5 linked regions of the Homo sapiens genome follow. The protein of the gene in region 3 purifies or fractionates together with the protein of the main gene of each other region. This does not show direct contact. Each region holds a gene or a part of one and is shown on either strand. Other genes may lie near its edges. The genes, in order: SAFB, RTCA, USP45, FARS2 and YLPM1.

The links.
Region 1: the proteins of USP45 (region 3) and SAFB purify together in Homo sapiens (affinity purification with mass spectrometry; one large-scale study listed by BioGRID and IntAct). This does not show direct contact.
Region 2: the proteins of USP45 (region 3) and RTCA purify together in Homo sapiens (affinity purification with mass spectrometry; one large-scale study listed by BioGRID and IntAct). This does not show direct contact.
Region 4: the proteins of USP45 (region 3) and FARS2 purify together in Homo sapiens (affinity purification with mass spectrometry; one large-scale study listed by BioGRID and IntAct). This does not show direct contact.
Region 5: the proteins of USP45 (region 3) and YLPM1 purify together in Homo sapiens (affinity purification with mass spectrometry; one large-scale study listed by BioGRID and IntAct). This does not show direct contact.

The regions. Positions count from the first base shown.
Region 1 is NC_000019.10:5,662,538-5,669,062, forward strand, and holds the end of SAFB (scaffold attachment factor B1), read left to right. Parts: intron 1-1,484; coding exon 1,485-1,622; intron 1,623-1,859; coding exon 1,860-1,902; intron 1,903-4,508; coding exon 4,509-4,627; intron 4,628-4,809; coding exon 4,810-4,913; intron 4,914-5,282; coding exon 5,283-5,349; intron 5,350-5,624; coding exon 5,625-5,754; 3' UTR 5,755-5,941; downstream 5,942-6,525. UniProt on the Homo sapiens protein: Binds to scaffold/matrix attachment region (S/MAR) DNA and forms a molecular assembly point to allow the formation of a 'transcriptosomal' complex (consisting of SR proteins and RNA polymerase II) coupling transcription and RNA processing.
Region 2 is NC_000001.11:100,288,208-100,294,286, reverse strand, and holds the end of RTCA (RNA 3'-terminal phosphate cyclase), read right to left. Parts: intron 2,885-6,079; coding exon 2,783-2,884; 3' UTR 1,518-2,782; downstream 1-1,517.
Region 3 is NC_000006.12:99,465,939-99,472,463, forward strand, and holds part of USP45 (ubiquitin carboxyl-terminal hydrolase 45), read right to left. Parts: intron 2,681-6,525; coding exon 2,599-2,680; intron 2,593-2,598; exon of another isoform or gene 2,162-2,592; intron 826-2,161; coding exon 734-825; intron 1-733. UniProt on the Homo sapiens protein: Catalyzes the deubiquitination of SPDL1. Plays a role in the repair of UV-induced DNA damage via deubiquitination of ERCC1, promoting its recruitment to DNA damage sites. May be involved in the maintenance of photoreceptor function.
Region 4 is NC_000006.12:5,546,078-5,552,602, reverse strand, and holds part of FARS2 (phenylalanine--tRNA ligase, mitochondrial), read right to left. Parts: intron 1-6,525. UniProt on the Homo sapiens protein: Is responsible for the charging of tRNA(Phe) with phenylalanine in mitochondrial translation.
Region 5 is NC_000014.9:74,768,637-74,775,161, reverse strand, and holds part of YLPM1 (YLP motif-containing protein 1), read right to left. Parts: intron 3,471-6,525; exon of another isoform or gene 3,416-3,470; intron 1-3,415. UniProt on the Homo sapiens protein: Plays a role in the reduction of telomerase activity during differentiation of embryonic stem cells by binding to the core promoter of TERT and controlling its down-regulation.

The sequences.
Region 1 (6,525 bases), on a different chromosome or scaffold from region 3:
GTTAACTAACCAGGTTCAAGGGTGGCACAGACCTCCTGAGGAGGGAAGCTCAGGCACGTAGAGAGCGCCACACGTGCCCTACTGCACCTCCTTTAAGGCCCTTTCCTTTTTTTTTTTTTTTGAGATAGAGTCTCGCTCTGTTGCCCAGGCTGGAGTGCAATGGCGCGATCGCTGCTCACTGCAACCTCCACCTCCTGGGTTCAAGCGATTCTCCTGCCTCAGCCTCCCTAGTATTCGAGATTACAGGCACCCACCACCACACCCGGCTAATTTTTGTTTTTTTTAGTAGAGATGGGGTTTTGCCATGTTGGTCAGGCTGATCTCAAACTCCTGACCTCAGGTGATCCACCCACCTCAGACTCCCAAAGTGCTGGGATTACAGGCGTAAGCCACCACCCCCGGCCTTGTCCTGGCTTTTTAAATCCATTGTAATTTGTTTTTGCTTATTCTAGAAATAAAGAATTAAAAAAAAATTTTTTTTTGAGACGGAGTTTTGCTTTCGTTGCCCAGGCTGGAGTGCAATGGCGTGATCTCAGCTCACTGCAGCTTCCGCCTCCTGGGTTCAAGCAATTCTCCTGCTTCACTCTCCCAAGTAGCTAGGATTATAGGCATGTGCTACCACACCCGGCTAATTTTTTGCATTTTTAGTAGATACCGGGTTTCACCATGTTGGCCAGGCTGTCAAACTCCTGACCTCAGGTGATCCACCCACCTTGGCCTCCCAAAGTGCTGGGATTACAGGCATGAGCCACTACGCCCGGCAGTAAGATTAATTTTAATTTCTCAAACATACTGAAGAGGAGGTATGAACACAAAATGCTGAGCATGGCTGCTGTGAGGAGTCAGGTGTGTAATTCCAGCAGTGATTGTGTCAGGCTTTACACGTGCACTGCAACCTGGCAAAAATTGCTGTTTGTTGTTTCTTTCTATTGCATGGGTTGAAGAGGAGCCCAGGTCATATATACAATGCAACTTCTATAAAGGGCCTTGTAAACTGTTCTAGGATCTATTATGCTTTGGTACGAAATCCTTCTGATGACAGTTCATTATGGTCATCTGTGTATTGCAGCAGTACATGGCCAGGGCTGCTGGCAGGGCAGGAGGTCAGCTTTGGGGCGAGAGAGATGGCAGGTGCACTTGACAGAGCCCCTCGGGGTGGAGGCTCACGTGGTCTTCCTGAGCGGAGGTGGCTGTGTAGGGCTCCAGAAGCCATCTGCAGGCAGCCCATAGGACTGACTGCTTAACTAATGGCTCCCTCTTTGGAAAACCGAGGCCGCTTTTCATCAGGGGAGGTGGGTGCATGGGACAAAACAAAACAACTGTGCAGTCACTGGGGTCAAATCAGACCTTGCCTCCTATAGGAGAGAACACTCTTGGTGAAAGTCATCCTGGTTCTGTGAAGTGCTAGGGGCCAGCTCCCACAAAGGTGATAGATACATTTGGGGTGGGGGATCCCTCTATCTCTGTCTCATGTCCCCTCACAGGCGAGATGATGCCTATTGGCCGGAAGCCAAGCGGGCCGCCCTGGATGAGCGCTACCATTCTGACTTTAACCGCCAGGACCGCTTCCACGACTTTGACCACAGGGACCGCGGCCGCTACCCCGACCACTCGGTGGACAGGTCAGTTGGGCCCCTGCTGGGCGTGCGGGTTTTCTTTTTCCTGGCTCATTCTGACTGAGAACAAGGACTCCTGGGCTCTCTGAACCCACTCCGTTCATCAGATGTATGCTGAGTCAGACCCGCAGGTCTCCTGCCTTCAGTTAGGGAAATTATGCTTTTCATTGGGGGCCTGATGGTCCTCTCTTTGTGAACAAGCCTCTTCTTCCCCTTACGGTTTGATTTAAATTGCCTTTTCAGGAGAGAAGGTTCAAGGTCAATGATGGGAGAACGAGAAGGACAGGTAAGTCTGAAGCTACAGTGGTAGCCACAGAATTTCCCATAGAATGGGTTCTTTTCCCTTCAGCGTGCCTTCTTCCTGCCCTTTCTTTGAGCAAGAGGCAAAATGAGGAAAGAGAAAAGTAAAGCACTAGAAAAGTCTAGGTTTGTGGAATGGAAATTTGGGATTATTTGGGGTTAGTCTTGGCTGTCAGTCCAAACAGTTACTCTGAAGCTGTTTTTAGCCTTGACCCTGGGGTTCTGTGTGCCACACTCACCACACATGTGCAACAGTGCCAGGGAACCTTGGGATGTGACCTGGCTCTGCTGGGAAGTGTCTAGTGAGCCGCACAGCTGACTCAGACAGGTGCATCTGGGGAGGCTGTGGTTGCTGTGTCTGTCCTCGAGTGCCTGCCCTCTTTTGAAAGTAAGGACATCCTTCATCACCCCAGGGCCCAGCTTAGCCTTGGAAAACAACTAGATCTGTGGTCTGTGCTCATTCTCTTCGGGGGCTAGCACATTAGAACAATAAGCTCCATTTTCTCCTTCCATCTTACATTGAGACTGAGACTTCCCAGGAGAGCCTTGGACCTCTAGTGGCTTTCCCTATAAACTTGGGGGCAGCACATTGCTGTGTGGAAGATGCCTCCTCTCTGAGGACTCCACTCATGAGCCCTTCCTCCTCCTGCCAGCATTTTCTGGACTCCACCATAAGCTTCCCGCTTCTGTCCCCCTTGGTTCCTTAATGTGGCTGAGCATAGCCAAGTACTCAGCTCTGTCTCGGGATCCTCAGGAATTCCATCAGCCTCGTGGGGTTCCTTTTTCCCTGCTCCTGGAGGCAAATTATATGCAGCAAAACGTAGAACTAGTCTTGTGGATTTTCTTTGGTGGAGGAGCATACACCAATGGTTCCATGTAAAGGCTCCAGAATCAGAACTGGCGTCACACCTTGGTGTCACCCCTTCCTGCTGAGCCTGTCTCCCCAGGAGTGAAATGAGGGTAATATTCCTCCTACAAAGGGTGCGGTGGTGGGGGTTTACATGAGGTGGGCGCATCTGTACAAACGTGTTTATCATTGCCAGCTACTTTTTTTTTTTTTTAATAGAGACGGGATCTCACTATGTTGCCCAGGCCAGTTTTGAACTCCTGAGCTCAAGTGATCCTCCTACCTCGGCCTCCCAAAGTGCTAGGATTACAGATGTGAGCCAGCACACCTGGCCACCAGCTGCTTTCATGAAGGTGTTAGATATGCTCTCCTAACAGTGGAACGCGGTTTGATCCCTTCTCCTCACATACACAGTCATAAATGAGTCGTCAGAGTTACCCCAAAGGGAAATGGTAACATCTCCCTACAGAGAAAACTAGCACAGAACTTATGGGCCTCATTGAACAGTTACGTGGGTTGGTTGGACAGAAAAATGTTGGTTCAATTTTCAAATACTAAGGAGAGCTTATTTCAGGAGTCCCTTTTCTTACTTTGTTGAGGGGAGGCATCAGAGCACATGCTGGGAGGATAGGCCAGGAAGCAGGCAGTGGTAACGTGGGACATCGTGCACGTGGTGGAGCATGCCGCCATCTCTCCCTTCACCCTGGCAGAGCTCTCCGTTGAACGGGGAGGTGAACTTGGACATGGACAACAACCAGCCTGTGTCAAGGGGGTTTCCTTACCAGGACTCCTTTCTAGTTTCCTTTCACCTACAATGTGGTCATGGGGCAAAAACCCCAGAGACCACATATGTATTGGTGGAAAGAGAAAAAACAGGACTGTGGAGCCAAAGCTACCTCACTAGCTTTTGTGAAAGTCAGGCTGGAAAGTGCTTCCAGCCACAGAAATAGGCTGTGGGTGTAAATATTAACCTTGGCCATCAAATAAGTAGGCATAGAGTGTGACTCGCCCTCTCTTGGTCTTCCCTGAAACAGCAGGGTCAAGAACTCCTGGTCTGTGTTAGCCACGTGGCTTACAAAAACAATGACACAGAAGAGGGAAAGGTGGGACTAGCCAAGTGGAAGGCCAGCCGTTTATCTCTCAGTGTCCTGTGTCTTATATCCTGAGCAGAGCAAGGTGCAAGACCCTGGACTGGGCATCCAGCAGAAACTTCCGAGAAACTTGACTGTGAGGAAGGATGCTTGCCTAGCAATTGGTCGGATGAAGGGCTCCATTTGATACTTCCTTCACTGTGGAAGGAAGAAATTTGTAAAAATTATTTCCAGAATATGCACACATTAAAGGTTTATAAACCTGACCTTTCTTTAGTAGAAGACAGTAAGAGAATACTGTTGGCTCTGGGAACTAACCATTTGAGCTGTGGGACCCAGGGAATCTCTCTTGTAAGCATCATCTTTAGTGGGTGACTCCTGGTGGCCCTCCCAGCTCTGGTGGTGCTGTGGGGACCTGCCTTGGAGATGCCTTGGTACTAGTACCTTTTTTGTACCAGGCCATGAGCCTAGGGCACAGGGCCTCTGGCCTGCAGATTTCAGGAAGGCAGCTGTGTTGTGTGAACCGATACAGCCTGCCAGCACTTCTGTCCCGAGTGACTGTCGTTGTCATCGTTAGCATGTTGCCTGAAAAGCCTTGGGGTCTGGGCGCTGACACTGAAGCTTTTTTTTCCCTTCTGGCTCTGTGATGTCCAGCATTACCCAGAACGCCATGGAGGACCAGAGCGCCACGGCCGGGACTCCCGCGATGGCTGGGGGGGCTATGGCTCTGACAAGAGGATGAGCGAGGGCCGGGGGCTGCCTCCTCCCCCCAGGTTTGTGTCCCACACCCGACAGTACCTGACCCCCCCCCCGCCCACAAGGGGGCCCGCAAGTCGCTGGGATGTGGGCACAGGGTGGGAAACACAGAGGGATTCACTCTCCAGAAGCCGCCACAGTTATTAGCACAAGAGCCAGAGATGGGGGCAATCCAAATCAGAGATGTCTCTCTTTCAAGGGGCAGACGTGACTGGGGGGACCATGGCCGAAGAGAGGATGACCGGTCATGGCAGGGCACGGCCGACGGGGGCATGATGGACAGGGATCACAAGAGGTGGCAAGGTGAGGAGCAGCTCTGGGCTGGGACCAGGATGTGCTGGGGAGTGATGGAAAGATGGAGGCCGCGCCTTCTCTCCTTGGGGGAGCACAGGAGGTGCTCTGCTCTCAGTGCTGGAATGAGGAATGAAGAGCACTCCAGACACCGCCTGCTCTCTGGTGGTCTGGCCCAGGAGTTGGACAGTGGGCGTTCCCGAGTTCTCTCTGCTGGGAGGAAGCTGGACGTCTATGGTCCCTGTGCCCAGGTGTCTTCCTGGGACCCGCTAGTTGTGGGTACCTGGGGGCCTCACCAAAGGGAGTGGAGTGGGCTAAATGTGCCGTGGGTTCCACGCCGTGTGCGCAAGTTCCCTGTGTGAAAGCACGTCTGTCTTCCAGGTGGCGAGAGAAGCATGTCCGGTCACTCCGGGCCTGGCCACATGATGAACCGAGGAGGAATGTCAGGGTAAGGCATGCTGGGGGCGGCGCCCCTTCCCCCTGCTTTGCATATTGGCCTACCTTGCTGGAGGCTTAACAACCAAGTCCTTCCAGCTAGTGCCCCTCCCCCCAAGGGTGACGTGAGGCCAGGCATGGGGTACTGTGGAGGCTGCTGCCACTCAGGAGGGGAGGGCATTAGGAAGGGGCCCTGCCTGCAGGCAACACTCAGGGAAGCTGTGCAGGCTGGGATGGGCCGGGGAGCAGGAGGACTTCGCAGTCAAACCAATGTGAATTTGTTCCTAGGCGCGGCAGCTTTGCCCCAGGCGGGGCCTCCCGGGGCCACCCCATCCCACACGGTGGCATGCAGGGCGGGTTTGGAGGCCAGAGCCGGGGGAGCAGGCCCAGCGATGCCCGCTTCACTCGCCGCTACTGAGTACTTGGAATCCTGTGTCCTGTCTCGTGGCAACAAGGCTATGTTCTGTTAGGAGTTACCTTAAACTGTGTAAAAATATTTTTTTTTAATCTGCTGCCATATTGTAGCTCAATACAATGTGAATTTGTTTTTCGTTTTGGGGTTTTTTTTTTTTGTAATAAATGTGTTTCCGTTCACATACCCTTTATTTAAAGTGTCATTTCTTTATTTCTGCCTCTTTAAATGAAACGAAATTAGACTTTTAGTTGTATTGATATACACTGATTGTTCCTTTTTTTAATTATTATTATTATTTTTTTTTTTTTTTGAGATGGAGTCTCGCTCCGCCACCCAGGCCTGAGAGTGCAGTGGCGCGATCTTGGCTCACTGCAGCCTCCACCTCCAGGGTTCAAGTGATTCTTCTGCCTCAGCCTCCCGAGTAGCTGGGACTACAGGCGCCTGCCACCACACCCGGCTAATTTTTATATTTTTAGTAGAGACGGGGTTTCGCCATATTCGTCAGGCTGGTCTTGAACTCCTGACCTCATGATCTGCCCGCCTTGGCCTCCCAAAGTGGTAGGATTACAGGCGTGAACCACCACGCCAGGCCGACTCTGTTTATTTTTAAATATGTGTGAAACCTCTGGGAAGGCATCCGGGTGTGGAAGAGGCTTTCCAGTGAGACAGTGATTGGTTTTCGCATAATGGGCCTGTGCGGTGCAGGTTTTGCCTGACTTCTCAAGTCACCGAGTTCTCCTTTAATGTTAGCACAGACCGGGCTGCTTTGCTCTT
Region 2 (6,079 bases), on a different chromosome or scaffold from region 3:
CAATAATATAAGATAGATTATAGAAGCTAGAGCACACTGCACATGGTAGGGATGAATAGAGAGCAATGAAGTGAAATTTTTACTAAGCAGTAAACTCCCAAAGTTTAAAAGGATTTAAACATTCTAATAGCGTTTTGGCAATTAAAAAAAAAATGGTTCTCCTAGTAATCAGAAAAGAAAATTCTGTTTAAAGATGTAATGTTTATCTATTGAAACACTGAATAGATAAACATATTAATGAAGCTTTCTCCTCCTTATTTAAAATCATGCAAAATACACAAATAAGATGCAGGTTCATATCTTAGTTTGAGTGGGCTTTTCAGAGACTAGTATTTCAAAATGCCCCTTTATGTGGTACCCTGGAGATTTTCTTACAACTCTGGGAAAATGCACTAAGACTGGTAAAAAATAAACTTCTTATGTAAAAAGGAAGAATGGCAATTGTGAAAAAGATGCTAAAAAGAACCTTCAAACACCTACCTTGACTTTAAGCAACTCAATTTTAGGAGAAAGTACACATTTAAGTAGCAAAACTTGGAAACTAATTCTCTAAAAACCACTGACATCTGCAAAACCTGAATCTCATGGAAAAGCGTTGTAAAACTCAAGTGGTAGGAATACCCCTGTTTGAAGGCCACTGGTTTAAAGAATATTCTTAAAAGACTGTTCTACAGTGTCAAATCAACAGAACTACTTGCATTTGGTAGTTTAAAACAAACAAACAAACATACTGAAATGGAATTTTAGATAAAGAACAGACATAAGAATAGAAGTTTTTTGGAAAATAGAAATTCAAGTCACTTGTAGGACTTACCGCTGAGACTCAATAACAGTGACACATCTAAGCCAAGATTAATCGTAAACTCCCCGTGTATACTGTTGAATTTAAATCTCTCACTCCCAGAGGCAAAATCTCTGCACTCCAGCCTACACCTTTAACACTGCTGGCACACCTCATCAGAAGTACAGAAATCATTTCAGTCTGAAGACCCCCAAATTTATCACAATCCCTCGAACAACAAGTGTAGTATTACTCTAAAAAAGTTTTACTCTAAAATAGAAAGATATATCTCAACTATTACAGAAATGAATAACTTACAAAACTTACCCACTATGTGAAAACATAAACAGCAAGTAACACTATTATCAACTTTAAAGCAAATTGAACCCAACTGTCCAAGGTCATAGATATCACAGACAAGGATAAGAATAATGACTATGTACATGGCAACTTTTTTCATTTTACTGTTCCATACAGACTAATTCAGGACTTTCTAAATGTATCATAGAGCATCCTCTGGATCTACATTTTGGACTATGTTTTAATCATCATGAGAAAAGGTCCAAGATAGACCCAAGTTTTAATGAATTACACACTCTATTGTAGTACAACACATTAAGCTGACATACCAAACTGATTTCCTTTGAGTCACAACCTCAACTGCTACCGGGAACAGGAAAACATCTAAATGTGGAAGCATGTTGGGTGTAAGATAACAGAGAATAATGAAAGCACATTCCATTTGAAAGACACTCATTTATTTGTTAATAACACAAGCCAAACAAAAACATATCTGGGGATGAATCTGCGAAACCTACTAGGGTTAAAATTTTACTTCTCTTAATTGTTTGGCTTCCAAAACATATTTGGCTTCCAAAACAGATTCAAATTCAAAAAATATTTACGACCAGCTGTGGTGGCTCATGCCTGTAATCCCAGCACTTTGGGAGGCCAAGGTGGGCGGATCACGAGGTCAGGAGATGGAGACCATCCTAGCCAACATGGTGAAACCCCGTCTCTACTAAAAATGCAAAAATTATCTGGGTATGGTGGTACGTGCCTGGAGTCCCAGCTACTCGGGAGGCTGAGGCTGGAGAATCACTTCAACCTGGAAGGCGGAGGTTGCAGTGAGCTGAGATTGTGCCACTGCACTCCAACTTGGTGACAGAGTGAGACTCTGTCTCAAAAAAAATGAATAAATAAAATAAAAAATAAATATGTACAAAGTGCCCACTAGGTAGAAGGTATATATCATTAGAATGAGACAATGCCTATTAAATGTTATTGTTGCCGGGTGCACTGGCTCACGCCTGTAATCCCACCACTTTGGGAGGCCGAGGCGGGCAGATCACGAGGTCAGGAGTTCGAAACCAGCCTGACCAATATGGTGAAACCCTGTCTCTACTAAAAATACAAAAATTAGCTGGGCATGGTGGTGTAATACCAACTACTCAGGAAGCTGAGGCAGTAGAATTGCTTGAACCCGGGAGGCAGAGGTTGCAGTGAGCCAAGATCACACCACAGCACCCCAGCCTGGGTGACAGAACGAGACTGTCTCAAAAAAAAAAAAAAAAAAGGAAAATGTTATTGTTGTCACAACAAGTACATTTGCATAAAGTTGCCTCATTATACTTGAGATGTGATTTCAGCAAAGATTAGAATTATACCCAAATTACAGATCAAATCTATATCCCTGATTTAATTAATTACATAAAAAAGAAAAATGTATTTACTTCAGGTGTAAAGAATATTTTATTTCAATACTTCAATATTGAAATCAGCTATCACACATATCCACCAACTGATATTTCATTGTCCATCTCTCAGGAGATATTCAAAGTGAGATTAATTTAATGAAGCCTTCTCAGCAAACCTAGAACACTGTACTTCATCTTCAAATTTAAGTCATAGCCTTTAATAAGTTACTTCCTAGTCATTATTTTATAGTATTTATGAAATAGTGCAATATATCAATGAGGTATCATTTAAGAGGCAAATACTCTATAGATTTGGATTTGTCATCCCAATTCCTTGGCATTCAATAATATAAGTATCTTTAGCGGCGTCTTCTTCATCTTCTGATTTCTTCACAATAAATTTAGCCTGAAATCAGAAGAGGAGTATATAAGTAATACGAAGAGAGATGGAGGAAAGAGCCCACAACTCCAACTTATGTAGGCAGAGAGTTAATGTCAAGCCCATTTTATTGAAAAACCTACAGAGACACAAAGATCAAATGATTGATGAGAAAGAAACTTAATAGCCTCAAGATAACACATTTCATTGTACAACCATGGTTCTTCTTCAGAGGTATACATACCTGTGAGTTTTGTCCAAATATATATGCCTGGGCCCCTTCCACGCACACTGAATCAGAAAGCTCAGATGTACAGCTTAGGCAAATAACAATTTTGAAACCTCAAATGGTAATTTTAATGCAACTGTATTCCCTATGCCCTAAAATTTTTCTGAAACATTTCTACTTTTATCTTGTCAAGTCACAAATTACCCTTTAATTTCTTTACATTTTTTCTTGCTAATTTAGTTCCCTATATATATCGTTCAAAAGATCCAGTTCAGAGAAGGTATGTGGGGAGGAGGGGTGGTGGTGGTGATTAACATCTTCCTTCATCTTTAATGTACTGGGCTTAACATCACATTTTTCACTTAGTAACTAAAGTTGGCTTTGAAATATTTTACCTGTATCATTGTATTTTGCTTTTGTTTTTGTTCTGTTTTTGAGACAGAGTCTTGCTCTGTCACCCAGGCTGCAGTGCAGTGGCATGAACACGGCTCACTGCAGCCTCAACTTCCTGGGTTCAAGGGATCCTCCTGCCTCAGCCTCCAGTGTAGCTGGGACCACAGGCACATGCCACCATGCCTGGCTAATTTTTAATTCTGTTGTATAGGCAGGGTCTCACTTTGTTGCCCAGGCTCAAACTCCTAGGCTGAAGTGATCCTCCTGCGTCAGCTTCCTAAAGCGCTGGGATTACAGGCATGAGTCATTGTGCCTGGCCTATATCACTGTATTTTGAAAACATCATTATTTTTAAAGCAAATGTGATTCATTTTAACAAAACTAAATTTAGAATCAAAACAACTAGCCAGGTGCAGTGGTGCACACCTATAATCCCAGCTATTCTGAGGTGGAAGGATCATTTGAGTTCAGTTCAGGAGGCTGGCCTGGGCAACACAGGAAGACTCCTCACAACTCCCATCAACGTCTTAAAAAAAAAAATCAAAACAATTAAATAGGTTAAGTTTGTGGCAAAAGGATTTCAAATATGCCTAAAATCTTAGGATTCTTGGAAGCACAATTTGAAAACCATCACTTGGGGGCCTTACTGAATGAATAGTAATGTTTAAAAATTCTTTCACTTTCAGCATTACATGGTAATGTACTGACACAGAGTGGACACTTGAAATTACTGTTGAATGAATAAATGCTGAATTCTGAGCTAGGTAACCATATTAATTAATTAGTAATATATGCATGCGTTTATATATTTTTCAAATTACAAGCATTATGTAAATATGAAACACACGTAGCAGCTATGAAAATCATTTCTAGCCTATACATAAACCTACTTAAAACTACAAATATGTAGACCTGAAAGGAGCATAGCAGGCCTATCTAGCTTAAGTCTGATTTTACAGATAACTATTTGCATTGAGACAAAGAAAGATAAGAAACTTGCCCCAAGTCACCCAGTTATACACAACAAAGCTGACCAAGATACAAGCTATACACAGGTTCATAGCACTTTCCGTTATGTATACATTTCAAATAACAAGTAAGCATCTACTATATGTAAAGTACTGTGAAAAGTAAAGAATATAATGAATAAAACCTGATCTCTGCTATTAAGGAGATCAATCTATAAGGAGAGACAGACAAGTAATAGTTATAAATACAGCATAAGTAGAGTAACAAAAAAAATAGAGTTAACACTCTTGACATCAAATACAATTTGCCTTTAATTCCCATCAGTCTTTCCTACAATTTAACAAAAACTTATCTATGTTTCTTAATAACAATTAAAAGTATACATAATTAAGAATCAAACTGGGCACAGTAGCTCACAGCTGTAATCACGGCATTTGGGAAGCTGAGGTGGGAGGATCACTTGAGCCCAGGAGTTCAGGACCAGCCTGGGCAACACAGGGAGATCCCGTCTCTCAAAAAACAAAAACAAAAACAAAAAAAAAATTAGCAGGGTGTGGTGGTGCACAGCTGCAGTCCTAGCTACTTGATAGGCTGAGGTGAAAGGATCACTTGAGCCCAGGAGTTCGGGGCTACTGTGAGCTATGATACTGCCATTGTAATCTAGCCTGGGCAACAGAGCAAGCCCCTGTCTCTTAAAAGAAAAAAAAAAAAGAAAGGCCAGGCGCGGTGGCTCATGCCTGTAATCCCTGCACTTTGGGAGGCCAAGGCAGGCAGATCGCGTAAGGCCAGGAGTTTGAGACCAGCCTAGCTAACACAGTGAAACCCTGTCTCTGCTAAAAAGTACAAAAATTAGCTGGACATGGTGGCACACGCCTGTAATCCCAGCTACTCTGGAGGCTGAGGCATGAGAATTGCTTGAACCTGGGAGGCAGAGGTTGCTGTGAGCCAAGACTGTGCCACTGCACTCCAACCTGGGCTAACAGAGCAAGACTCTATCTTAAGAAAAAAAAAAAGAAAAGAAAAAGGATCATCATACAAATAGGAGTAGGGCAGCAACAGTGGTTTTGTGTATGGGACACTTCTGTAATGATTAATTTTTTAAATTAATATATGTTACTTTTGTCACTTTAAAAAATGCTTAAGACTAGGGCTGGGCATGCTGGCTTACACCTGTAATCCTAGCGCTTTGGGAGATTGAGGTCAGAGGACTGCTTGAGCCCAGGAGTTCAAGACCAGCCTGGGAATGTGGCAAGACTCCATCTCTACAAAACATCAAAAAATTAGCCAGGTGTGGTGGCACACTCCCGTAGCCCCAGCTACTTGGGAGGCTGCGGTGGGAGGATCATTTGAGAGCCCAGGAGGTTTGTGCCACTGCAATCCAGCCTGGGCAACAGTGTGAGACCCTGTCTCAAAAACAATAATAATAAAAATGCTTAAGATTAGCAACTTCCCTTATAAAATTGTTACAAATTTTATATTTCTTTATAAAATTACTTTATAAAGAATAAGCAAAATGGGAAATATGCTACATGTTACTGAAATAAGCAAGAAATGAAGTTGTATGCATTAACTGCAAAAAATGCAAAGAGAAACGATTTAGGAGAAGAGGAAAACACCTAAATGTCAACAGT
Region 3 (6,525 bases):
AATACGTCATATAAACTTTAAATCAAAGGTGATATAACCACCCTAAATTATGTTAATACATTAAGTTATTTCTATTGGAATTAGTTTTTTTTTTTTGAAACTGAGTCTCGCTCTGTCACCCAGGCTATAGTGCAGTAGTGCGATCTCGGCTCACTGCAACCCTGCCTGCTGGGTTCAAGTGATTCTCCTGCCTCAGCCTCCCGAGTCATTGGGACTATAGGCACCCACCACCATGCCTGGCTAATTGTTTTGTATTTTTTTAGTAGAGATGGGGTTTCACCATGTTGGCCAGGCTAGTCTTGAATTCCTGACCTCAAGTGATCCGCCGGCCTTGGCCTCCCAAAGTACTGGGATTATAGGCATGAGCCACTGCACCCAGCCTGGAATTACATTTTAGGGCACTGCAACGTAGCACAGTTACTCTCTTCACAGAAGTTTTTCTCTCACTTCAAACAGATAGCTAATGAATTTCAGTATATTAAGATAGGCTAAAACTGCCTCATAGGTGTGTCATGAGGAAAAATAACACAAAAATACATTTACTTTTAAAAATATATAAATTATCACATTTACTTTCTAGGAGTGTAGCGTATAAAAAGACTTTCAAGAATCATTATGTAATCATCTGTCAAATTTTAAAAATGACTGCCAATGATTATATGTGAAAGAAAATATAATAAAAATGATGTGATTGTAATCCATTCCATGCTGAATTGAATTCTAAAGTACCTACATTTGCACATTCTTCACACATGACCGTGCTAGTTAATTCACCAATAAAGATCCGATCTATGAAGTTCATTTTCACACCTTCTTTTCCATATGCTGTAAAAATCATACTTTTTAATGCAAAAAACATGTCAACCATCCATCTAGCAGTATAATAGGCTATCTTCTGGTTATTCAAAAGTAATCTGAATAAGATATTCTGTACTACATTTAATAATACATTTTACTATACATACAACATTCTAAAGTCTTTCTCCTTTACAATTTTGTAGCAGATTTACGACTATCAACTACTTTAGTCTCCAAGAAATAATGAACTATTCTTAAGAGGTAAAACAAAACAACCACTATTCGTACCACACCTCAACCACTCCCATTAAAACTTATAAAACCTCATGTCTAACCAATAAGTACCCAGAAGAATGGAAAAGGAGATTATGCTATCAGGACTACGGATGCCAGGATCACGGCTATGAAAATAACAGTCGTAAAAGGCAAGTGTAAGGAATTAACATAGGTAATTAAGAACTCAAGAACATGGTTATATTTTTAAAAGTTAAAATTATTCTGCTCAGGAAATATTTATAAATTAAAAAAATGCCAATGACTTAGTTTAAAATAACCTGAGGTTGGGAGAAAATGGATTAAACATAAACCATGAACGCAGTTTAAGTTGGGTGACAGATATAAAGGGCTGCATTATGCTATTCTCTCTACTTTAATAAAAATTTGAAACTTTCCATCATAAACCATGGGAGGAAAAAGTATATTAACAAACCTATTCACCCCTCTTTCAAACTTCTTTTTTGAGCCTCTATCTTCAAGTTTCATACAAACAATATTCAAAATCATTTAAAATATTAGAGCACTGAATGACAGAAAACATGTGAATATATCAGTAAACATTAATTAAAATTGTATTTAGAAATACTATAATAATAAAGATATTTCTTCTAGAAAAACTAAAAGGGATTGGAAATAGTACAAAACTGGAAAGAGGGGGAAGAAAAACGGGGCTGTTATTCTAAACATCCACGAGATGGCACTATCTCAACACAAAAGAACAAGGCATATTTGAGCAGCTACGTTTTTTAAAAATCTTGAACCCTTAATTACAATAAAGTGCACAGTAACAATGTGTGTATGTTTGCAAATTATAGACCTGTAGTACATACATTATAAAACCACAAAAACAAAAGTTAGAAAAAAATACAAATAATATTTTTAAATGTCTTCTAAAAATCACTTCATGCTAACATTAGTTAGTATCTCAATGCAGAATATACATTTAGGGCAAGGTATATAAACCCTATATAGTATTGATAATGATAAATAACCAACTTTGATTAGGTAATCATCATTTGGGGCTCATATTTTTATGGATGAATAGCAAACACTAGGAGTAGGCAAAGTGCACTTACACTTGACTTACCAGCACTCTCTTCAATAAACGGTTTATTTGCAGGAGTCTTTGGAGCACTTAAACATTTTGTCTAGTTACATCTAAAAAATATCCATAAATCCATTGATCCAAACACATGTCAAATGATACAATATGATACATATGAACTTCCAAGTGTGGTTGCTACTTTCAACAACCTTTCAAGTTTCCCTTAGAAGACCTCACATAAAGGTATCGGTGTCAATCTGTATACTTGGTATAGCTTTATTCTTATAAATTCACATGAATACATTCTAGCATTTTCTATGTTCCACTAAAGTATTTTTCAGACACTGCAGCAACTACGTCCTCCTTTTAAAGCCACTACTTTGGTGGATTAGTTCACATAATGTTCAGTTCTTTTTCCAACTAAAATAAAATTTTAATATTTTCTTAAAGAAAAAAGTTTTAACAAAGAGTCAACATACCTTTGACTTTTTTTCTAGTTTCATCATCAGCAGTTTTAGTAGTTGGGTTGTTAAATGCTTTTAGAATGCTAGCTTGTATTCGCTGTAAAACAAAGTTAATAGATTCTGGTCTAATAATAGTTAACTCAGGCCTCATCCTCCTAATAAAAGTACTTTCAAACAGCAAGGTACACTGTGGATTTCAGTTCCCTAGTTTGAAAATAAAATGACCAAATTTTTTAAAAAATGTAATTTCTTCCAGGTCTCAAATTCCATGAATAGATTGCTCTAATGTCAAATTTTCCCAAGTAAGAGTCAGAATTTTTACATTTAGGTTCTCTCTTGGATTTAATGTATTTTTATCAGTGTACAAAAAGCAAGCAGCCTAGTCCTGTTGCTTAGCATAAATTAATTTGCCCTCTTTCTTCCTTCTCCCTCTCTCTAAAATGACACTTCTTAATTAGGACCAAAAAAGAAAATAGACCATATGAAATTTATTGTCTATGAAGACCTTTCTATATTAAGAAGCTATCAAGCTGGTTACTATAATCTCTATGCTATGTGGACTACCTCATTTATATACACATATAACTAAAGTCCAAATTTATCAATTAATGTCCATAGCAAGAAGAATCCCCCAAATTTTAATTATGGTTTTACTTGAACTTAGTTGTCAATAATGATTATGTTTTCAGCAGCTCTCAGTAAATGACAAGGTTTATATTAACTATTTCTACATCTCTTGTGTATGTTTTAGGAAAGATCCAATCTCACAGAAAAGTTTCAGAATAAAACTACATACTCCAAGAATAAAACTTAGTAAGTGACCTTTTAACATTAACTATGCCCCTAATTAGTGGATGAATTTTGTCTTCCTAATTCAGATTATGACAGTAGGATGAGGGAAAAGTTTAATTATCTTTCCAAAAAATATATATATAATTAATATATATATAATATATATATATATATTTTTTTTTTTTTTGAGAGTCTTGTTTTGTTGCCCAGGCTGGAGTGCAGTGGTGTAATCACTGCCCACTGCAGCTTTGACTTCTCTGGGTTCAAGTGATCCTACTGCCTCAGCCTCCCAAGTACCTGGGACTATAGGCACACACCATGACACCTGGCTAATTTTTAAAAATTTTTTTGTAGAGATGGGGTTTTGCCATATTGCCCAGGCTGGCCTTGAGCTTCTGAGCTCAAGCAAGCCACCTGCCTCAGCCTCCCAAAGTGCTGGAATTACAGGCATGAGCTGCCACACCTGTTTTTTGTTGTTTGTTTGTTCGTTTTGTAGAGACAGGCTCTTCCTATGTTGCCCAGGCTGGTCTCAAACTCCCAAAGTGCTGGGATTACAGGTGGTGCCTGGTCCTTCCTATCTTTTAATTGGAAAAGATCACTATGATATATTAAGTGAAAAAAGACAAAGTACAAGTTATATATATGGTATATGCCACCTTTTGAATAAGGAAAAAAAGAGCATAAAGGAAGAAAGACAAGAACACGGGATATAAACAATGGCAAAGTCAAAACACAAGAGAGGCAAAGGGATCTCCCAGGAGCATGGTTAGGAGGAATTCCAGAGTGACACCTATACATCAGATATGAGAGGTAAAGAACCCAGATTGGAGCAATGAGACTTATGAATCAGAAATATTGTCAACACCAACATCCCCTTCTGCCATTATAACATGCTTTTAATCTAAGAACACAATATTATATGGAGAAGGAGGTGATCACATTCTTATTCTCGCTCCATGCCCTGCTGCCTGGATAAGCAGAAGACACTCATGACCCCCAGAATTGTTCTGCTGTGTATGATTTATGTTTCTTCTGTGTATGATATATGTTTTTTAACACATCCTCCTCCAACAATTGTGAAACCGAGTTTCACTTATTACTAACTGGCCTGTGATTAACACATTATATTTCCTATAACTGTTCACTGTCCTCAAGCATATTTTGAAAATTAATACAAGATTCAAAACACTTAAATATTTTACAAAGTAGGGGATAAAAGCAAACATAAAGCAATTCATACCGTGTGACACAAGTCCTGAAATACACTTATATACTATAAAGAAATCAAACAATAAAATGTCTCCCAGAAGCTATTAAATACTGAAATAATCTCCAATTCAGACTCAATAAATTTGAAAGTTGATATAATTCAGACATTGTCTAAGCTAAAGTTGGCTTTTACACCTTGAAAAAAGAATTTATTGAACTAAAGTAAGCAAATTGGAATTGTGTAAATTCCATGCAGGAGAAATATTTAATGAACTTAAATGAAAAATTCCAATAAATACCAATGTTCACTCGCAAATATTTCAGATAATCATAACATTTCAAACAACTCAAGAGAAATACTTCTAACTCAACTCAGTCTGTAAATTTATCCTACAATTTAAACATTTTACTAATTCAGACATGATTTTTGATATGATTTAATGAAACTTTGCTATATATCCTGAAATGTCATATCACTCAAAAGAAGCTAAGAAGTTACCAATTCAAGCAGCAGGAAAAAAGCTAAAAAGCTGTGATTACACTCTAAAAAGAGTAAAATGAAATTGTTTACATTATTAACTTTTAAATATTAGACTTTTGCTTTTTAATTTTGATCCTAACCGTGAATTTATATTCTCTACTCCAAACTGTTTAAAAGTCAATTAATAGGTAATTCATCAAGTTGAGGAAAATAAATGAGTTTACGTCCATATACAATTCCTCATTGTTAAGAGTTGTGCTTTGAACAATTTAGGTTAAAAGAAAGATACATACTTTGGTCAGGGAGCTGTTAATAACTGTAGCACTTAATCAATTAGCAGTATCAAGGTTCAACTATTTCAGATCTCCACCTTATACTTTAAAAACAAGAATGAAAATAATGTACAGTTTTAGCTGAGATATTCTGTCTTTAAAATAATTCTAACCAAAAATATATTACAGTAATAAATCTTGAAGATAATAAAAATATAGTATCATTAATTTAGTGACTGTGCAAATTAAAAGGAAAAAACAAAGAAGCATAAATGTATAAATTAAAAAGACTGCCTTATAAAAGAACTACTTCTAGGAAATTTGATTTTGTACATGAAAAATTTACAATTTCTGCACAAATGATCCTTTAAGTACTATATTCAGCAAGAGTATATTCCTCAATGTTGTAGTTCAGAAAAGACTTTAATGAAACCATATGAAAGGAGGTCAGTAGTTTTTCATCATTACTAAAAGATTCTGGTGGCAGACATAACACTGTAGCCTTCCTTCAATCAAGAAACACATGGCAGTGACACCCTACAACAACAGCATGATTAACAGCTGTGGAGTTCCCAGGCCAGACAATGCAGCTCCTGCCCTGATACTGTAGCTGACCGTCAGGACTGTCCTCGCTTATGAAATTGAATAGATCCACAGACTTGACATTTTAATTTTACTGCACCATTTAAAGCCTTCAAATAGTGCAAGAAAGATAAGAGCTTTCAAAACCAATGTGTCCTGCTGGGCTGCCTAAGATACTGTGCATCCCAATGCACCATTACGACTAAACAATAATTTAATTATAACAAAGACTGCTATCAAATTATAGAGGTAAAACAGAAAAAAGTGACAGGGATATATTTTACTTTTTTTATAATATCAACAGAAAAAAAACCCCAAGACATAATTTTAATCCATTCACATGACTTTTAACTTCACTTACTAATTTTTTTTTTTTTTGAGAACGTGTCTCACTCCCTCACCCAGTCTAGAGTGCAGTGCCGCGATCACAGCTCACTGCAACCTCCACCTCGAGTTCAAGCAACTCTCCTGCCTCAGTCTCCTGAGTAGCCAGGATTACAGACACGCATCACCATGCTTGGCTAATTTTTGTATTTTTAGTAGACACGGGGTTTCACCATGTTGGCCAAGCTGGTCTCGAACTCCTGACCTCAGGCGATCTGCCCA
Region 4 (6,525 bases), about 94 Mb from region 3:
TCACACAGGTGAGGACTCAGGGTCCCATCAATCAGAGACTGTTGCTAGCACCCAGGAGAGTGCCCCACAGCTGGACAGAAAAATGTACAGGACAGGATGTGGAGGCCGCACAGAGAAAGACACCACAGAAGCCAACACAGCCTAGAGCATCACTTAGGAGGGCCTAAAAGGAGACCAAGGAAGAGAAATTTCTGCTTCTTGCACAATAGGATTCCCAAATGGCTTCCAGAGTTTCCTGGCCAGGGGATCCACAAGTTCATAGCTGCCAGCAGGCCTTTTCCCCATTTTCTCGCCCCACCTCTGAGATTGCAGAGAATTACAATCATTTTAAGTATTTTTCTCAAGGCAGGTCAACTGTAGTAATAAAACAAGTTTTCTGTCAACACAGTCCCCTCTTATATATGTAAATATGACTACTCTACATAAATAGTTAAAAATGGCTAACACTTTAATACTATCCTTATTTTTTATCCCTAAAGACAAACCACTCTATTATATCTGAAGGCAAGCAATCTGTCATGACGAAATAGGATATAAAATGGCACAAGTGATAGGCTAAATAATAGCCCCCTTCCACAGATATCCATCTCTTACTCCCTGGAACCTGAGAATACGTTATCCTACATTAAGATCTTTATAGATATAATTAAGGAAGGATGTTCAGATGAGGTGATTATCCTGAATATCCTGGTGGGTTCCATGTAATCAGAAGAGTCCTTCGAAGAGGGAGGCAAAAATTCAGAGAGAGGGTGAGGTGTTTACAGAGGGAAGTGGCAGGGCTTGGGGGAAGGCAACGTGATGCTGTCATAAGCTAAGAACTGAGGACTGTCTCTAGACGGGCAAAGGCAAGGGAACAGATTCTCCCCCAGAGCCTCCAGAAGGAACCAGCCCTGCTGACACCTTTACTTTAGGCCAATCAGGCTGATTCTGGATTTCTGTCCTCCAAAAATATAAGATAATAAGCTCATGTTGTTTTAAGCTTCTAAGTTTGTGGTAATTTATTATAGCAGCAACAAGAAACTAATACGTATTTTTGTATCTGGAAGTGAGGTATTGCTTGTAACAAATACATAAAAATGTGGAATTAGCCTTGGAATTGGTCAGTGGGTAGTAGATAACTTGGAGCACCATGATATTAAATGGCTATTTTGCCTTAAAGAGACTCTTGTAGAAATATGGATGTTATAGACTGTGACAGGCAAGGAAAAAGTGAGGAGCATGGTAGAGAAAACCTATACTGTCTGAGAATATCCAAATATTCATAAACATACTGGTGGTAGCAATACAGATGTCAAAAGCCCTGCTGGTGAGGGCTCGCAAGGAAATGAGGAACATGTTAGTGGAAGGTGGAGGAAAGGGGATCCTTGTTCATTCATAGCGGCAGAATTAGATGAATTGGAAGTGGAAAGCAAAACTTGTAAACAATGAACTTGGATATTTAGCTGAGGAAATTTCCAAGCAAACAGTGAAAATGCAGCCTGCTTTATTCTTGCAGGAGAAAACAGACAAATTAAGAGAACTGCTATGCAAAGAGGAGCAAGATTAGATAATTTGGGAAATTCTTAGCCTATCTATACTGAAAAAGACAAAAAGTTAGGGGTTTTGCTGAAAGAAAAGTGCTTTGGAGAGAAAGCCATGAGTGCAGCTATACAACCCTTTGTTAATGCCTCAGAAGTTTTGAAGGATCAGGGTATTTAGTCAAACAGAGGGCTCTTTGAAGAAATTAAGCATATGAGTCAAGGATCCCCTCAGGCGTCTCAGCAGAAGCCAGAAATAGCAATGAATTATTCAAGAAAGATCTGCAGAGGAGCCTCTTGTGTAATGGAATGAATCCCTATGATATAAATGGGAGAGCCACAAGGTTTTTGAGAATGATTTACCATCAGGAACACTGTCAGCTGGAATTGAGAGGGACAAAAGAACAAAAAGAGAAGGAAAGAAAGAAGGCTATTTGACTCCCCAAATTCTTCAGGCAAAAGCCAGGGTAATAAAACAACTCACCTGCATATACATGCCACCCTTAACAAAAAAGGAGGTAAGGCACAGTGGCTCATCATGCCTGTAACCCTGACACTGTGGGAGGCCAAGGCAGGCAGACTGCTTGAGCCCAGGAGTTGAAGAACAGCCTGGGCAACATGGCAAGACACCTTCTCTACTAAAAACACAAAAAATTGGCTGGGCGTGGTACCATGTGCTTGTAGTACCAGCTACTCGGGAGGCTGAGATGTAAGCCTGGGAGGTGGAGGTTGCAGTGAGCCGTGATGGCACCACTGGGCTCCAGCCTGATGAAAGAGCAAGACCTGGCCTCATAAATAAATAAAAGAACTTTAAAAAAGAAGGATATTTTAGAGGGTAGAAATACAGGTCAAATGGGTGAAGCCAAGGGCCACAGAGAATTATCCCCAGGCCTTGAAACCTAATGGCTGAATTTTGAAATAGCTTGGAACCAGTGATTCTTTTTCTTCTCCTTTCATTTTCTCCCTTTTTGAATGGAAATGTCTACAACTATTCTCCAATGCCTATCCTACTCATTGTATTTTGGGAGTAGGTACCTCGCTTCAGGTGCAAAAGTGGGGAGGAATTTTGCCCCAGGATGAATCATACCCAGAGTGTCACATAAACCAGCTTTAGATAATTAAATGATGAAATGGGACTTAGGGGCTGATGATATTTAGATGACATTTTGGATTTTGAGTTGATTTTGCAATGGGTTCAGAGTTTGTGGGACCTTGGGATAGGCTGAATGTATTTTACAAAAGACAGATGTGAATCTTTAGGGGTCAAAGGGAAGACTCTGGTAGACTGAAAAATGCCCCCAACCCTACCCAAAGATATCTACGTCCTAATCCCTGTAACCTAGAAATACATTACCTTATATTCAACAGGAAATTTACATTTCCTTTTGTATTAGAGAATTAATTTGTATTAAAGTATTAAAGGATTACTTTAAGAGAAGTATTTTGAGATGGGAAGATTATCCTGAATTACCCAGCAAGGCTTGATACAATCATAAGGATCCTTATAAGAAAGAAGCAAAGGTCAAAGAGAAGGCAATGTGACAAAAGATGAAGGAGAGAGAAAAGGCAACATGATGCATGGCTGTGATCCAAGGACTGAGGATGGCCTTTAAAAGCCGGAAAAGGTGACAGTTCACAAGGACAGAAAACCAAATACCGCATGTTCTCACTCATAGGTGGGAACTGAACCATGAGAACACCTGGACACAGGGCAGGGAACATCACACACCAGGGTCTGTCGTGGAGTGGGGGGAAGAGGGAGGGATAACATTAGGAGAAATACCTAATGTAAATGACGAGTTAATGGGTGCAGCAAACCAACATGGCACATGTATACATATGTAACAAACCTGCACGTTGTGCACATGTACCCTAGAACTTAAAGTATAATTAAAAAAAAAAAAAAGCCAGAAAAGTCAAGAAGGTGGATTCCCCCAAGAGCCTACAGAAGGAGTCAGCCCTGCTGACACCTTAACTTTAGCCCAGTTGGGTGGATTTTGGTTTTCTGACCTCTAGAACTGTAAAATAATAAATACATGTTGTTTTAAGCTACTAGATTTGTGGTAACTGGTTACCTAAGCAACAGGAAACTAACAAGAATAGATACTAATTATAAGTGAATACTTAGGTAATAGTATGATCTATAATCTATACTTCACAAAGTATTTTATGAACATATACTAAATATGAATGTACAAATCCTAATTGCCCCGTTAGAAGTTCTTAAGTTTGTTACACAAAGACAACTATAAAAATTATATATTAGTGCAGGTATGCATATATTGGCTTTCAAATTTGAAGGCAGAAAGGAGAAAAAAAATGACATTTAGTGCAAGAGATCAAGAGTCTATTTCTATGTGTCTCATAAAAAAAGATTGTTGTAAGTACACTTAAAATTGAATTTAAGCCACTTAATTCTGGTGGCAACTGTGTTTTTCATCTTTATTTGTCACACCATGGTGTTGAGCACACCATTCTACACGATGTTGGTGTTCTTTAAATGTTTGCTGATTAAATAACTGACAATATATTAAAAAGAGAATGAGAAAAAGTTACAGCCCTAGCCAGGTTTTATTGTAAATTAGATACAGCTTTATTTCAAATTAGTCTACAAGGAAATTGATGCTAAAATAAAACAGATAATTATTCAAGTAGAAGTTTTTAAAAGTCCTCATAAGGTAAAACCAAAAATATATGCATATATACATAGAAAGGTTCAAGATGCAGATGGGCACACACACAAAATCAGTGTGCTTCACTATAACAATAACAAAATACACTCATAAAAATCATACCTGTCCTTAAAGTTGATGATATGGTTTGGCTGTGTCCCCGCCCAAATCTCAACTTCAATTGTATCTCCCAGAATTCCCACATGTTGTGGGAGCAACTCAGGTGGAGGTAATGGAATCACAGGGGCCGGTCTTTCCTGTGCTATTCTCGTGATAGTGATTAAGTCTCACAAGATCTGATGGGTTTATCAGGGGTTTCTGATTTTGCTTCTTCATCATTTTCTCTTGCTGCTGCCATGTAAGAAGTGCCTTTCGCCCACCGCCATGATTCTGAGGCCTCCCCAGCCATGTGGAACTGTACGTCCAATTAAACCTCTTTTTCTTCCCAGTCTGGGGTATATCTTTATCAGCAGCATGAAAATGGACTAATACAGTTGAAAAGGTCTGTACACAAATATAAATAAGTATAACTCCAGAGAGAGATGAGCCCTTCTAGGGTAGACAGACACTGATGGCTGCTGTCGCCACTGGGGCGTGAGTAGGCAGAAGAGCTAGCCTGCTACTGGCAAAGACATTTTGTTGGAATAAGAAGAATGAGCCACACTTGCGTCAGCCAAGCATGGGCTGGCATGGCAGATTGGAAAATGGAGAAACAGAGCTAACCCTCACTGCCAGCCAATTCTCCTTCATAATATTTCTGCTTACAAACGCTGGTGGTGGAAGAAGCTGGTAAGTGGATGGAAAGCAGAAAGAGATCCTGTGATCTCACATGGTTAGATCCCAAACTCTGCTGCAGGGCTAGATCTCACCATCAAGAGGAAAGCAGATGTGAAATTCAACTCAACTCCTGATTAGAACAAAAAGATCTGGCCTAGTCACCTTAGCAGCCAGAAGGTAGAAAGCATAAGACTTTCTGGGGATAAATTTTATCTACCTCAGTCTTTGTCCATTCAAACACAATTAAAAAAAAAACAAAAAGACAAGTGAAGCAGCAGGAAATATGTAAGCCATGATTAGGAAGGGAAAACAACCACAACAAAAGAACACTAGATAATCAAATGGTTGGAATTAACAGACAAGTACTTTAAAATAACCATTATGAGGCCGGGCGCAGTGGTTCATACCTGTAATCCCAGCACTTCGGGAGGCCAAGATGGGCAGATCACCTGAGGTCAGGAGTTTGAGACCAGCCTGGCCAACATGGTGAAACCCTGTATCTACTAAAAATACAAAAGTTAGCCAGGCATGGCAGTGTATGCCTGTAATCCCAGCTACTCGGGAGGCTGAGGTGGGAGAATTGCTTGAATCCAGGAGGCAGAGGTTGCAGTGAGCTGAGATCATGCCATTGCACTCCAGCCTGGGGAACAGAGCAAGTCTCCGTCTCAAAATAAATAAATAAAATAAAATAAAATAAAATAAAATAACCATTATGAATATGTGAAAGAATTTAAGGAAGAATGGATGAAATGGATGAAAAAATCAAGCATTTCAGTAGATAAATGAAAACTCTAAAAAGGAAGCAAATGCAAATTCTAGAATTGATAAATACAGTTATCTGGGGAATGATTAATTCACTGGATGGGCTTAATGGTTACTTGGACAAAACAGGAAAAAAAAAAAGATGAGCAACCCAAAGAGAAGACAATAAAAATTATCAAAAATAAAGCACACAGGAAAAGAAAATCGTTAATTAAAAAAACCTTTCATCAGAGTTCTATGGCATAGGATCAAATGGTCTAACATATATGCAGCTTCATTCTGAAAAATGAATGGAGTAGAATTGTTGGAAAAGATACTAGATGAGGGCTGGGCGCAGTGGCTCACTCCTGTAATCCCAGCACTTCGGGAGGCCAAGGCGGGCGAATCACAAGGTCAGGAGTTTGAGACCAGCCTGGCCAACATGGTGAAACCCCGTCTCTACTAAAAATACACAAAATTAGCTGGGCGTAGTGGTGGGCGCCTGTAATCCCAGCTGCTCAGGAGGCTGAGGCAGGAGAATTGCTTGAACCCAGGAGGCGCAGGTTGCAGTGAGCCAAGATCGCGCACTCCAGCCCAGGCGACAGAGTGAGATTCTGTCTAAAAAAAAAAAAAAAAAAAAGTACAAAATTGGTTCTCTGCTTAGACTAATAATATTGACAAATATCTTTTCTCTTGCATAAAATTTCTGAAGGTTTATGAACCCCTTGTGTGTTTATGGACCTCTATTTAGGAACTTCTTTTTTTTTGAGACAGAGTTTCGCTATTTTTGCCCAGGCTGGAGTGCAATGGCACGATCT
Region 5 (6,525 bases), on a different chromosome or scaffold from region 3:
ATAAATTCCATCTCATAAACTCCATCTTGACGTTTAACCCATGACTGGATTTTTTGTTTTTAACTATTATACATATAATCATCAGCTCCCAGGATATAATTACAGATGGTCCCTGACTTAACAATGGTTCAACTTATGATTTTTCGACTTTATGGTGGTGTGAAAGTGATATGTATTCACTGGAAACCATACCATGAATTTTGATCTTTTCCCAGGCTCAAAATATTCAGTATGATACTCTCTTGTGATGCTGGACAGCAGCAGCGAGCCCTAGGCTCCTAGTCAGCCACACATCATGAGGGCAAACAATCAATCCTCGGCCAGGTGCAGTGGCTCACACCTGTAATCCCAGCACTTTGGGAGGCCAAGGTGGGCTGATCACCTAAGGTCAGGAGTTCAAGACCAGCCTGGCCAACATGGTGAAACCCCGTCTCTACAAAAATACAAAAAAAAAAAGGCGGAGCGCAGTGGCTCACGCCTGTAATCCCAGCACTCTGGGAGGCCGAGGCAGGTAGATCATGAGGTCAGGAGATCAAGACCATCCTGGCTAACACGGTGAAACCCCATCTCTCCTAAAAATATAAAAAAATTAACCTGGCATGGTGGCAGGCACCTGTAGTCCCAGCTACTTGGGAGGCTGAGGCAGGAGAATGGCATGAACCCAGGAGGCGGAGGTTGCAGTGAGCCGAGATCACGCCACTGCACTCCAGCCTGGGCGACAGAGCGAGACTCCGTCTCAAAACAAAAAAAATACAAAAAAATTAGCTGGGCCATGGTCGCAGGTGCCTGTAATCCCAGCTACTTGGGAGGCTGAGACGGGAGACTCGCTTGAACCCAGGAGGTGGAGGTTGCAGTGAGCCAAGATCGCACCACTCACTGACTCCATCTCAAAGAAAACAAAACAAAACAAGAAAAAAACCAATACTCTACTGTGTACTGTGTGGCCAGATGACTTTGCCTAATGTAAACTTTCTGAGCACATTTAATAGCTAGGCTAAACTATGGTATTCAGTAGGCTAGGTGTATTAAATGTTCAACTTACATTATCCTCAACTTACAATGGGTTTATTGAGATGTAACCCCACTGTAAGTCAAAGAGTATCTGTACTTTTACTATTCAACGTAAGAAAACAGCACACTTGGCCAGGCACAGTGGCTCATGCCTGTAATCCCAGTACTTTGGGAGGTCTAGGCGGGCAGGTCACCTGAGGTCAGGAGTTCGAGACCAGCCTGGCCAACACGGTGAAACCTCGCCTCTACTAAAAATACAAAAATTAGTAGGGTGTGGTGGCACACACCTATAATCTCAGCTACTCCGGAGGGTGAGGCAGGAGAATCCCCTGAACCTGGGAGGCGGAGGTTGCAGTGAGCCGAGATCGTGCCATTGCACTCCAGCCTGGGCAACAGAGAAAGACTCTGTCTCAAAAAAAAAAAAAAAAAAAAAAAAAAAGAAAGAAAACAGCACACTGACCATGAAAGCCAAAGCCAATAATAATAATAATGTAGCATTAAAACACTTCCTTCCATTATTTTAATACTGAAAACATCAACAGACTTATCCTTCAGTTTTAAAAAAATTAGTACATTCTCTTTCAAGTAGAAGTTAAAAGTTTCCTTTTTTAAAGTTGCTTTGAAAGCATTATTAAAAGATACAAAGATGCAAACTATCTTTCACAAACTAAGCCAATGCTACAGATATGAAGACTGTACAGAATGAAAACTGTACAGGTCCAGATTCTTTATCAGCTTCTTCATCACCTATTCTCATGCTTTGTCTTAGATCCAGACCAGGGTTAAGAACTTGTTAAGGGCTGAAGTACTTGTTGATTCACTGACAGTATGCCTTGTAGGTCAATTTCTCTTTTTTTTTTCTTGAGATGGAGTCTCGCTCTGTCGCCCAGGCTGGAGCGCAGTGGCGCGATCTCGGCTCACTGCAAGCTCCGCCTCCCGAGTTCACGCCATTCTCCTGCCTCAGCCTCCTGAGTAGTTGGGACTACAGGCGCCCGCCACCACGCCCGGCTAATTTTTTATATTTTTTAGTAGAGACGGGGTTTCACCATGTTAGCCAGGATGGTCTCGATCTCCTGACCTTGTGATCCGCCCACCTCAGCCTCCCAAAGTGCTGGGATTACAGGCGTGAGCCACCGTGCCCGGCCGCCTTGTAGGTCAATTTCTATTTAATATGAACCCTATAAGTAGTAACCAGATCTAATTCAATCCTATGGTAGGCTTCAGCACATTTTTGAAGCTCTGCAAATAAATAATAATGATATCACTCACAAATGTCCTTACTGACCCTAAGAGAAGTGTGATCATCCCTATTTTAGAAAGAAAAAAAATGCCTGAACTTGCTAATGATGCCAGCTCTTCTGAATGTCCCATCATATCAGATAACTCCATTTCATATGGGATGTTGTTTTATAGGTAGAGGGAAATCATAATATAGGTCACATTTAAAACGAGATTGAATGAAGGGATTTCAAACATAAAGAATGTAGAACTATTGGCTGGGTGCGGTGGCTCACATCTGTAATCCCAGCACTTTGGGAGGCCAAGGCGGGCGGATCACAAGGTGAGGAGTTCGAGACCAGCCTGACCAACATGGTGAAACCCTGTCTCTACTAAAAATACAAAACTTAGCTGGGTGTGGTGGCACATGCCTGTAATCCCAGCTACTCGGGAGGCTGAGGCAGGAGAATCGCTTGAACCTGGGAGGCGGAGGTTGCAGTGAGCCCAGATCCTCGCGCCACTGCACTTCAGCCTGGGTGAGAGCGAGACTCCATCTCAAAAAAAAAAAAAAAATTAAGAATATAGAACTATTTGTCACAAATACTGTTATTAAGAAAGATGCTGCCGAGGCACGAATATCGCTTGAGCCCAGGAATTCAGACCAGCCTGGGCAACATGGCAAGATCCCATCTCTCTGAGAAAAAAAAAAAAAAAAGAAAGATGTTGATTTTAATTTACTCAGGAAGCACTTACTGACCACTGCTGCTAGTAATGAACTAGATACTAAATGATTTTCCAAGTGGAGAACTATAAAGGAGGTGAGTGTTTGTGTGTAATGTTTTAAAGATTAATTTTAGAAGATTACCTTCCCTATCCAGGTTATCATAAATGCCTATAAGACAATGTTCTATGTCTTATATTCTAAAGCAGGGGGCAGGGAGGACACCTGGTAAAATAATGAATTGGGTTTCCATTTTAGAAATTTATTTAAAATAGGCTTAAATATTTTTGAGATTCACATTCTACTGTAAGAATCAGGGTCACCAGATAAGCTTAGTCCCCACCTATTTTTATTTTAAATGCTCATTTACTTCATCTATTCCTCCAGCTCCTTCCCTCATTCTCTCTCTCCTTCAGTCAAACTTCTTGAAAGAGTTGTCTGTACTCACCATCCCCATTTCCTCACCTTCCATCACTCCTCAAATCAATGCAATATGGCTTCAGTCACTATGAAACTGCTCCTGCCAAGGTCAACAATAATCTACATGTCAGTAGGTGCAAAAGATAACTCGCAGTCTTTATCTTGCTTGACGTCTCAGCAGTACTTCACACAGCTGACGACTCCCTCCTCCTAGAGTCTGTTCCTTGACGTTCATGGCAACGCACTATCCACTATCTTGATTTTCCACCTATCACACTGGTGCCAAAGTAACTGTGGTTTTGCCATTAAAAGTAATAGCAAAAACTGCAATTACTTTTGCACCAACCTAATATGAATACCTATTTGGCCATTCTTTCATTGGTTCCCTTAGATACTGCTATTTGTGGAGCTAGGCTTAATGTCCTTTAACCTCAGTTCTTACTCTACACACATTCCTTGAGAGGCTTCATCTATTTCTGTGTCTTCAAATACCATTTTTATGCTGATGACTTATAAATCTATGTCTCCCAGATCTTACATCTAGACTCCAGAGCTATATCTAACTTCCAAGTGGACATCTCCATTTGGAATCTATGTCTCAAGAACCCCAAACTCAGTATGTCTGAAACCTAACTCATGATTTTCTCCTCACCCCCAGAAATGTTCTTCCTCCTCCTCCTTTAGGTTTTTCTGTTTTAGTAAATTTGACCACCATCCACCCTACGGCCCAGCCCAGAAACCTAAGAATCATTCTTGATGCCTCCCTCTCCATAACTACTCAACCTCAAAGTGAATTCTAGCAGCTAAATATTTCTCCACTCTTCCCACTTCTCTCCATCTCAACTAATACCATCAAAGTCTAAACCACTATTATCTCTTGCCTGGATTACTTCAATAACTATTCTCTCTAAATCACTCTTGCTCCTTTTAATTCTGCTCTCCACACTGCAAGCAGAGTGAGCTTTCAAAAATGCCAATCTGTCACATTCACCTATGTAAAATCCTTCAATGGCTTCCAACTGCCCTTAGAATGAAGTCCTTACAGGCCTTCCCTGATCTAGTTCATACCTACCATCCTCACCCTGAGCTTTCAGTGAGCCTTATTGAACTTAATTCTTTGAATTCTAACTTCTGGTTAATTTCTACTCTTTTTCTTTTTTTTTAACTGAGATGGAGTCCCACTCTGTCGCCCAGGCTAGAGAGCAGTGGGGCAATCTTGGCTCACTGCAACCTCTGCCTCCTGGGTTCAAGTGATCCTCCCACCTCAGCCTCCCAAGTAGCTGAGATTAAAAGCGTGCACCACCACACCCAGCTAATTTTTTGTATTTGTAGTAGAGACAGAATTTCACCATGTTGGCCAGGCTGGTCTTGAACTCCTGACTTCAAGTGATCCGCCTGCCTTGGCCTCCCAAAGTGCTGAGATTACAGGCATCAGCCACTGCACCTGGCCTACTCATTTTTTTTTTTTTTAGGTCTCACTCTGTTGCCCAGGCTAGAGTGCAGTGGCACGAGAACTCCTGGGCTTAAACAATCCTCCCACCTCAGCCACCCGCAAGTAGCCGGCACTACAGGCATGCAACACCATGCCTGGCTAGGTTTTTTTTTTTTTTGAGTCGGAGTCTCACTCTGTCGCCCAGGCTGGAGTGCAGTGGCGCGATCTCGGCTCACTGCAAGCTCCGCCTCCCGGGTTCACACCATTCTCCTGCCTCAGCTTCCTGAGAAGTTGGGACTACAGGCGCCCACCACCACGCCCGGCTAATTTTTTGTATTTTTAGTAGAGATGGGGTTTCACCATGTTAGCCAGGATGGTCTTGATCTTCTGACCTCGTGATCTGCCCGCCTAGGCCTCCCAAAGTGCTGGGATTACAGGCGTGAGCCACTGCGCCCGGCCACCTGGCTAGTTTTTTAAACTTTTTGTGGGCGGGGGGCGGGGGGGGGGGTGTCTCACTTTGTTGCCCAGGCTGGCCTTGAACTCCCGGCCTCTAATGAGCCCAAAGAACTGGGATTACAGGTGTGAGCACCCAGTCCTCCTACTTATTCTTTAGAGTTCATTTAAATATCACTTTACAGGCCCGGCGTGGCAGCTTACGCCTGTAATCCCAGCACTTTGGGAGGCCGTAGCAGGTGGATCACGAGGTCAGGAGTTCAAGACCAGCCTGGCCAAGATGGTGAAACCTCTTCTGTACTAAAAATACAAAAAAAAATGGCCGGGCACTCTGACTCACACCTGTAACCCCAGCACTTTGGGAGGCTGAGACAGGCAGATCACCTGGGGTCAGGAGTTCGAGACCAGCCTAGCCAACATGGTGAAACCTCGTCTCTACTAAAAATACAAAAATTAGCCAAGCGTGGTGGCAGGCGCCTGTAATCCCAGCTACTCCTGGGAGTAGCTGAGGCAGGCTGAGGCAGGAGAATTGTTTGAACCCGGGAGGCAGAGGTTGCAGTGAGCCGAGATCGTGCCATTGCACCCCAGCCTGGGCAACAAGAGTGAGACTTCGTCTCCAAAAAAAAAAAAAAAAAAAAAAAAAAAAAGATAAAAATACAAAAAAATTAGCCGGGCGTGGTGGCAGGCACCTGTAATCCCAGTTACTAGGGAGGCTGAGGCAGAAAATTGCTTAAACCCGGAAGGCGGAGGTTGCAGTGAGCCGAGATCGCGCCACTGCACTCCAGCCTGGGCAACAGAGCGAGACTCCATCTCAAAAAAATAAAAATAAATAAAATAAAATAAAAACAAATAAAAAATAAAAAATATCACTTTACAAAGGGAATCCTCTTTAATTAGGTTAGCGCTCCCAGCTATATTCAATTATTTAAAATATATTTGTTCTCCACCTCCTATGCGCTAGATCCTATGCAAGGTACTGTGAATACAGTGGTAACTTAAAAAAAAAACAAAAAACAAAAAACTTGCCTTTGCCAGTTCCTTGGGGAATAATCTAGTGATATTTTATAATCCCATAGCACTCTGTACGTCTCCTCTTAATTACTTACTAAATGTCTTCTCCCTTCCCCCACAACTGAAACAAGAAGTCAATGAGGGCAGGTCCCATGTCTATCTTGTTAACCATTTCATCTCCAGTATTAAGCACAGTACTCATAGTACCTGGCACATAGTTGCTAGTCCGTAAGTATTTAAACATTAAATAAATGATACC